Linked DNA regions of Homo sapiens. The protein of the gene in region 2 purifies or fractionates together with the protein of the main gene of each other region. This does not show direct contact. Each region holds a gene or a part of one and is shown on either strand. Other genes may lie near its edges.

Region 1 (3,921 bases), on a different chromosome or scaffold from region 2:
AACATGGAAAGGTTTTTGCCTTTTAAAACATTTTTGAGTCATCATTTTGCTAAATGAATGACTATGGTAACCTGGAATTCCATTTCATAATGTCAAGTGTTTTAAATCTTTAACATATTTAATAGGCTTCCCAAAATCAAATTTCAGCTTCAAAATTGTCTTTTCTAACCTCTAACTTTGAGATGCTGCAGAGGGCCCCTGAAGCATCCAAAAGAGAGGTAAACAGAATTATTTGACATGTTTAATTACATGGGAAGCATTGTCAAAAAGAAAAAAATTTAATCTTCTTCAGGTTATATTTTAGTGAATAATATTAATATATGTTCCAAAATTGTATGAGATTTCTAAAATTCCAATATGTCTGAGTATATGCTATCAATCATAATTATGATTATTATGTTATTGTAGACCACAGAAATAACCAAATTTCCTTGTCAATTGTGTTTTTAACTATAACTATTTAAAGTCATTTCCACAGTTAATTGCTTAATGCTGATGCAGTTTCTGAAAACTTCACAAGCATGCAAAGTCCTAGAATATGGTGTCTTTTAGGAGATTCATGAAAGATTGGAAAGGACCCTAAAAAGCACTCTTGAATACAGGTTTCTAATAAGTTTAGAATTATATCATTTGAACTGGGTAAGAATTCCTGGAACTTTAATGAAAAGACTGACTGAGTTCTAAAACTGCTAACCCAAGTAGAACAAAAATTAATTAAATACCAAGAAAATACTTTGCCAGATTTTCATGCTAAATCAGCTGATACTGAAACTGTTTAGATATAAAATTTGAATAAACTCCATCATTTAAATCAAATTACCTATGATAACCCATCAGTTATCAGTGTTATGCACCTAATTTGGGGAAACAACTGGTATTCAAGAGGATATGAGTCTAATGTTAATTAAGCATGAACTCATGGAGAACCAGGATGGCCACCTTGTCCTTCCTAAGTCGTTAAAGCTTTTGTTAGTAAAATTTCTGCATTACATGACTCGTCACGGAAAAGATAAAATGATCCAAATTGAATATATTGATGTGGTGACTTATAAATTGCTAAAATAGTTTATAACCAATGTTTGGTCCCATATTCCTGGGAAAACAATCAAAGCTTCAGGTACATCCAGTCACCTGATAGGCCATTTAAACATTTTATAGAGGGATTTTATTCAATTGTTATTTTCAGTGCATGTTTTCTGGTTGTATAAAAGCTTTCCCATGCAAGAGGGCTGATGTTATAACACTAAGTTATTATGCCACCAAGTATTTTCACAAGGTAAAGAAAGCTTTTTATGGTTCACTGAGGACAATCAACTCCTTCACAACCTAGAAACTGAAGATTGTATCTTCTGAAAACATTGGATAAAGACTGTCCTTGCCATCCACACTACAGCAAAACTTCTGGACTTTGAACTTTGGGTTCATGATCTCACAACTGAGAAGAGTCCCTCCACACTCTTGGAACTGTACACCCATTGGAACCCTTAAGGTAAAGCTAACCAGGGAAGTTTCTCTCCCGAAGAAGATGGCATCCTTGATGTGAACAGCTTTTCCCAAGATCATGAATCAAGACTTCTCTATTATCATGAGACTCTTATCTTTGAATATTTTTTCCTTGCTTTTGCCTCTATGAAGAATAGAAGTGGAAAAAGGATCTGTTGTGTACAATTATGGGTTATACTTTTATTTGTGAAGAATTTTGCAGCCAGCTTTAGGTCCTTTTTCCATGATTTGGAATAAAAGAGGCAAATGTATCCCTCATAATAGGCTCCATAGCAGTTTACTGTAAAGGCTATGGTTACATAATAGACTAAATTATCTTAAGAAAGTTATGCTAAATAATAGAGTTGGCTAAACAGAAGAGTATCTGTGCAGCTGCTGGCACTCATGGCCTATGGAGAAAACATCAGGTATTATAGAGATTCAGTTGTAGCAAATTAATGAAGAGACTGCTTAGTTAAGTGAGTAGACTCTTTAGCTCATTGTTTAATCTATTTGAGTTTAGGAGGTTTGGTTTATGGTGACCCTGGATAAGGAGCATACTTACTCTCAACTCTTGGTATTATCCTCCTGATAGTCATAATAATAGTCTCCCTGGTGTGCTGTATTCTCTCAACGGTTTTAAATGTTTGCATGCTGCCACCTCTAGAATGTCAAATGGCCTCTCTTCAACTGGAATGACAAGAGCTGAAAGAAATTGCAGCCATGAGGACACTGTAACCTACGAATGATGTGCTGAGTCCAAAAGCCCAAAGTGTTGGTAACTGAGAGTGGTGCTAAGTAAGGCCCTAAGTTTTGGTCACACTCTCACTTAAGTGAGAACCTGACCAAAAAAGTGGAATTTTTTTTTTTTTTTTTTTTTTTGAGATGGAGTCTCACTCTGTCACCCGGGCTGGAGTGCAGTGGCACGATCTCGGCTCACTGCAAGCTCCACTTCCCGGGTTCACGCCATTTTTCTGTCTCAGCCTCCCGAGTAGCTGGGACTACAGGCACCTGCCACCACGCCCGGCTAATTTTTTTGTATTTTTAGTGGAGACGGGGTTTCACCATGTTAGCCAGGATGGTCTCGATCTCCTAACCTCATGATCTGCCCACCTCGGCCTCCCAAAGTGCTGGGATAACAGGCGTGAGCCACTGCACCTGGCCAAAAAGGGGAATTTTTTTTAAACAAAATTATGGGAGGTCATTTTTTTGTACTGAGCCCATGCGCCAGGCCCCAACAGACCAAACTAAACCAAAACGGAGTCACGTATGCCAAGACCTTAAGGAAACACATAGATCCTAGAACAGACCACAGGCCAGGTTTTGTTTTTCTCCTACAAATCTCTATAACAAACATTCCTGACAGCATAGATATCCACCCCCTGAGTTCCCATTAAATCTTTTAACCAAATTAATTTCCTCTCGCCAAAAGACCATCAAGCTTCAGATGATCATGCAACAAAAGTTTCATCCAGTTCCACCACCCCTGGCCATCAAGGAGCTACCCTGCCTTCACTAGAAAGAGCAGAGCAGGACTTCTGTGATCCTCAATAGGTAGGGACTAGGCCTCAAGCCAACATGAAGCAGTTACAAAAGAAAGACCATCGGCCCCTCCACCTCCCATAAAGATTTATGGGGATCCCATCTCTGGAGGGAAATGAGGCAGAAGAATAGGGTCTGTAGGCAAGGAATATAAGGCAGATGCATGCTCACTTCCTAGAACTAAATCAAATGGAAACACTTCAGCTATGATGGGAAATGTCTTCTGTATTTACATAGGGCATACACTGAGTAACCAATGGAAACCTCTAGAGGGTATTTAAACCCCAGAAAATTCTGTAACCGGGCTATTGAGCCCCTATGCTCAAGCCCTCTGCCACCCTGTGGAGTGTACTTTTGTTTTCAATAAACCTCTGCTTTTGTTGCTTCATTCTTTCCTTGCTTTGTTTGTGCATTTTGTCCAATTATTTGTTCAAGAAGCCAAGAACCTGGACACCCTCCAGTAGTAACACTACTGGACATATAGTGGACAAAATTAAGTCCTTATTTGAAACATCTAGTCTTCTAGATGTTTAGAAGTGCACACAGTATGTTAAAAGTAGAGGTAGTAAATAACACATTTTGTAGATATCCTTTTGATTCATATGAAACATTGTCTTTTGGAAATTGATCAAACCACTTCACATTATATTTATGCTGATTCAGGGAGGAAGGAGCAGAAGAAAGTGCAAAGGGCTTTATATCAGTGTGTTTACAGTATGACACAATTGACTGTTGTCCCTTATATCTGCATTTCCTTTTACTTTGCTGTGTATACAAACAAACATTTACATAGCTTTGGAATTTTGAATTGGTAAATATTCATGATGTGTGAAAAAGCATGATACATACTGTATGATCCCAATTGCATAACATTGGATGGTGTCCTAATTTATAACA
Region 2 (5,575 bases):
TAATAATAATGCTAACTTCTAATACTTCAGGTTCATCACAGCACAAATGATTTTTTGTAGTCTTGTAGGGCTATGAATTAACTATTATTGCCAGATATATCATCACTAAAATATTTGCATATAAATTAAGTTGAAAATATAAGTAATTACATATAAGTCATATATCTTTATATTCATTCTAGGCCGGGCACAGTGGCTCACGCCTGTAATCCCAGCACTTTGGGAGGCCAAGGCTGGTGGATCATTTGAGGTCAGGAGTTCGAGACCAGCCTGACCAACATGATGAAACCCCGTCTCTACTGAAATACAAAAATTAGCCGGGTTTTGTGGCCAGCGCCTGTAATCACAGCTGCTGGGAGGCTGAGGCAGGAGAATCGCTTGAACCCAGGAGGTGGAAGTTGCAGTGAGCTGAGATGGTGTCATTGCACTTCAGCCTGGGCGATAGAGCAAGATTCCCTCTCAAAAAAATAAAAATAAATAAAAATAAAATATCTTCATTGTGTAAGGCAAAGTTTCTAATAAACAGTGATTTTTTTTACTAGCATACAATAAGGACAGTTTCATATTTCTTTGCCTTTGTGTACTTTCCAGACACATAGACTAAAACGAAATGTTTAGTTTTTCCTTTACATTGTGTGTTTCAATAGACATCAATTAGCTGTCTTCAGTATGAACTTGGGATGAGGGCAATAAGAAACCCTATGTTTCCAGCCTCCACTAAGATGAACTGGCAGTGTGTCAGGAAAATTCCCAGTATGGAGCAGTTTTATTACAATTCAGTACAGTTGGTTCTTGCATAACCTTTAGAAAATCATACATAAAACATTCACATCTATATAAATAAAAATCACCCACACACTTTATTAATAGCTTTGTTCACTTTTTTTCCTGGGTGTTATGCTGCATGTTCCTACTGAGCCCCTTTTTTAAGTCTTTTTAAAAGATAACTTTAAGCTTTCTTAAAAGCAGAAAGGTTATGGTAATATTAGTAATCAAATATAAGTGTAAGATAATTCTTGATAAGTCCCATTAGACACATATCTCCCTCCTGATCACATACTCTAACTAGTGTCTAACTGTCCTTTTTACATTTAGTGACAGGGACTGGCTTATTCGCTAGATATAGCCAATTTAACTTTAGGAAAGAAAAAGGGACAGAAGATTGTACTTTCTTTCATTTGTGATAATGTTGGGGTTTATTTTAAAACAACTTTTATGGTTATATTACTGTTAGTTTGACTGCAATAAATACATGGGAAAGTGATTACAAGAACATACAAGTAGTCTTGGCCTCCTTTTTCTTTAGCTAGAAACATGTTTTAATTAACCAGAAGTGTATTTTCAGGTGTCATTTTCCTAAATCCAAACTTTACAAAACTTGCCATATATTCCCCCAAAGTATGTGGTATAAAATATCAAAATAATTTAATAATAAGCCTCTAGACTTAACTACCAATTTATAGGAAATATAAGAGCTAGAGAAACATGTTAAATGGCATCACTGTCCAGAATGTGGGAAATCTACAGGACAAATTACCCAATTTCTTTAACAAATGAATAACAATAGGGAGGGGAAGATAGGTAAATGTTTTAGATTAAAAGAGATCTATAAATCAAATACAATATGTGGACCTTGTTTGTATCCTAATCTGAGCAAACCAACTGTAAAAAGATACTTTTGAGACAGTTTGAGAAATCTGAATGTTGACTATTCGATGACATTTTAAAATTATCAATGTTGAGAAGCATAATAAAGGTATTGAGGTTGAGATTTTATTTAAAATATTCTATGAAAAAAATAAATTTGGAAGTAATAGCTAAGACAAGAATGACAAAATATTGTTAATTGTTGAAGCTATGTGATGTAGGTTTGCAATTTTCCGTAGTATAAAGTTAAATTAAAACACACACACAATGAGAAGGGAAAAAAAATAGATCATCACTGTAATAGGAAGCAAAACTATATTCACTTTAGGGTAGCAATTTAGTTTCAGCCAACAGTGGCATCCTATAAATTAAGTACATAATATATTAAATTTGGGAGAAGGAGAGACAGGCCAGTCAGTCAGTCTGTCCTCTTTCCTTCCCCTTCCCCTTCTTCCTTCCTTCCTTCTTCCCTCCCTCCCTCTTTCTTTCTTTCCTTTCTTTCTCCTTTCTTTCTTCCTTTCCTTCCTTCCTTCCTTCCTTTCTTCTTTCTTTCTTTCTTCCTTCCCTTCTTCCTTCCCGTCTGTCTTTTTTTCTGTCTGTCTTTTGACAGGATCTCACTCTGTTGCTGAGGCCGGAGTGCAGTGGTGAGATCACAGGCTCACTGCACCCTCAACCTCCTGTGTTCAAGTGATCCTCCCACCTCACCCTCTCTAGTAGCTGGGAGTATAGGCATGTGCGCCACCACGGCCAGCTAATTTTTGTATTTTTTGTAGAGACAGGGTCTCACCATGTTGCCCAAGCTGGTCTTGAACTCCTGGACTCAGGCGATCCACCCGCCTCTGCCTCCCAAAGTGCCGGGACTACAGGCATGAGCCACTGCGCCTGGCCAGGAAAGGCATTTCTAATTCAGCCTTACCTAACCTACAACTCACTGCCCCCTTTTCTCCTACTTAATACCATAAAATTGTAGGTGATAATGCATTGTTTGAAAAGAATGATGGGCCAGGTGTGGTGGCTCACACCTGTAATCCCAGCACTTTGGGAGGCCGAGGTGGGTGGATCACGAGGTCAGGAGATCAAGACCATCCTGGCTAAAGAAAAGAATGATGAACTTCGAATGGAGCAGATGGACCTAGTGTTTGCAGTGAAACACAAGTGTCTTTGACTTCAGCTTTAGTCTCCCTCCTATGCCATTTGTGGCATTCCCCTGGGACTGCCATACTATAATTGTGGAGTCAGTTGTATGCCATTTCCTCATAGCCAGAACTTTTGAGTTTATATATTATTCTTTGATAAAATACCTATTTTACAACAGGACATTCTTTTTTTACCTTTCATTGTTTTTGTTCTGTAAAAATGAATACTCTTAGTGAGTAGATTAAGCGCTTTACACACATAATTTTGTATAGCATAATTTACCTTCTAGGAATTTTTTCTTTCCTGAGACTCGATTTCATGGTATTTTTCTAGTAGAGCCTGGGTCTAATCAGAACATGGAACTGTACACAATTGGTATTTTGATACTTATCCATATCACAGCAAAGAAAAGTTTGTAAAATAAATGAATGTTGAAAGCAGTTTCTTCAGTGGACCTGCTTTTCTAAGTGGGAACATTGGTTTTCAATGCTGTGAAGGCTTGGCTGAGATGATCTAGAAAGGAGCCCTCACAAATCTGCATTTTAGAACAAATGCCTTCTTTCTGAATTCTCTAGTATTATTCTACCATGACAAATTTAAGAATAAGCCAAACAATTTTTAAGATCCAACTCCAGCTATAATTGAAATTATTAAGGCACCATACATAAAAGTAGTTATTTTACATTTGAACATATTTGTGTAATCTATTTTATCAACGTATCTGTAATCATCTATTTTATCAACCAAATTTTGAGTTCTCAAAAGATCTGGAGTCATTTCTGTCAGTGTAACTCTACGTAGCCTCTGTCATAATAATGTGAAAGTAGAAAGATACTTGCTAAATATATCTTGATTAAACCTGACTTGTTTCATCTCCTAAACCTAGAACTTTAAACTCAGAACTTTGGTTGATAGGAGAAGGTTTAAGTATAAAAAAAATGTGAATAAGACTGCATTGTGAAAAGTATTACTACTAAGAGCATTTTTTTGTATTATGAAAAGTACCGTAAGATAGTCATGGAATTTGGATAGTGGCCGGGTGCAGTGGCTTACAACTGTAATCCCAGTACTTTGGGAGACCTAGGCAGGTGTATTATTTGAGCTGAGGCATTCAAGACCAGCCTGGGCAACATGGCAAAACCCTGTCTCTACCAAAAAAAAAAATATATATATATATAATATATATACATATGTAAAATATATATTATATAATATATATTATATTATATATAATATATGTATTATATAATATATAAAATATATAATATATATTATATAATATATAAAAATATATAATATATATTATATAATATATAAAATATATAATATAATATATATTATATGATATATATAATATATAATATAATATATAAAATATATATAATATAATATATATTATATAATATATAAAATATATTATATGATATATATAATATAATTTATATAATATAATATATATTATATATATTTTATATATTATATTATATAATATATTATATATATCATATAATATATATTATATATAATATATAAAATATATATGTACATATATAAGTAATATATGTACATATATAATATATCTTATAAAAAGACAATTTCTTATATAAGAAAGTTGAATAGGTACTGGTAAAAATAATAGTTGTTACTCTTTATTAAGTACTATTTGTCGAGCACTTCACTAAGCACTCTATTTACAGTCATACATTGTGAAAGTGTGCTAAATTTATATACTACACAGAGTTTTCAGTTGGGATTTTTGAAAAATATAAATGCTAGAAGAGTAATGATTGTTTAATAGTCTGTATAATCTCTGTAACACTGGGGAAATACATCATTTTCTTGACATAGTTGGAAGTACTGTAAAGAAGGCATGCTTTCTATAACATCTTATTAAAATTACCCATCTTGTGATGAAAACTGATGAAATTAGTATAACCTCTCATCATGATGGCCAAGCTTTGTGACCCTTTATTGGAGTGGTTTTTATTCTAATTATTAACAAGTTTGGTGTCTGAATTCATTCGATATCTAATAAAATTGTTGACAAGGAAATGTAGTTTTGACACTTCAGAAGAGACATTTTCTACTTTATAAAATTAAGTTCCTACATGTGAAATTTGAGAAGCCACCAAAGTAAACATTCTATTATTCATTTAAAGCTCTTAATTGAGCCGGGCGCGGTGGCTCACGGCTGTAATCCCAGCACTTTAGGAGGCTGAGGCTGGCAGATCACGAGGTCAGGAGTTTGAGACCAGCCTGACCAACATGGTGAAACCCCGTTTCTACTACAAATACGAAAATTAGCCAGGCATGGTGGCAGTTGCCTGTAATCCCAGCTACTCCAGAGGCTGAGGCAGGAGAATTGCTTTAACCCAGGTGGCGGAGGTTGCAGTGAGCCGAGATCGTGCCACTGCACTCCAGCCTGGGCAACAGAGCAAGACTCCATCTCACACACACACACACAAAAAGCTCTTAATTGTATGAGCACCTCTATGCCATTTAGAGGCAACCAGTATTAATATTTAAAATTCAATTTTATTTAAGATTGTATTATCAATGTTAACAACCAGACTGAATAATTAAAGGGCCATTAAAGTAATACATAGGAATTAAACATTTTGTATAGAAGAAAAAAATTAAAAACCCTCTTGGTTTAAAATGAAATATTAATATAAGACAGGTGTTTTTGTTTGTTTTTAACTAAATAAGGCTTTTTTTCCTAAAACTATGACATCATTAATAACTTCCCCCATACTCCAATAATAGACAGTTTTTCCCCATCATCTCCCTA

Evidence for each region. The genes of interacting proteins can lie anywhere in the genome.
Region 1: the proteins of CIRSR (region 2) and TF purify together in Homo sapiens (affinity purification with mass spectrometry; one large-scale study listed by BioGRID and IntAct). This does not show direct contact.

What each region holds. Positions count from the first base shown.
Region 1 is NC_000003.12:133,793,230-133,797,150, forward strand, and holds the end of TF (serotransferrin isoform 1 precursor), read left to right. Parts: 3' UTR 1-3,412; downstream 3,413-3,921. UniProt on the Homo sapiens protein: Transferrins are iron binding transport proteins which can bind two Fe(3+) ions in association with the binding of an anion, usually bicarbonate.
Region 2 is NC_000002.12:174,353,144-174,358,718, reverse strand, and holds part of CIRSR (corepressor interacting with RBPJ 1), read left to right. Parts: intron 1-5,575. UniProt on the Homo sapiens protein: May modulate splice site selection during alternative splicing of pre-mRNAs. Regulates transcription and acts as corepressor for RBPJ. Recruits RBPJ to the Sin3-histone deacetylase complex (HDAC). Required for RBPJ-mediated repression of transcription.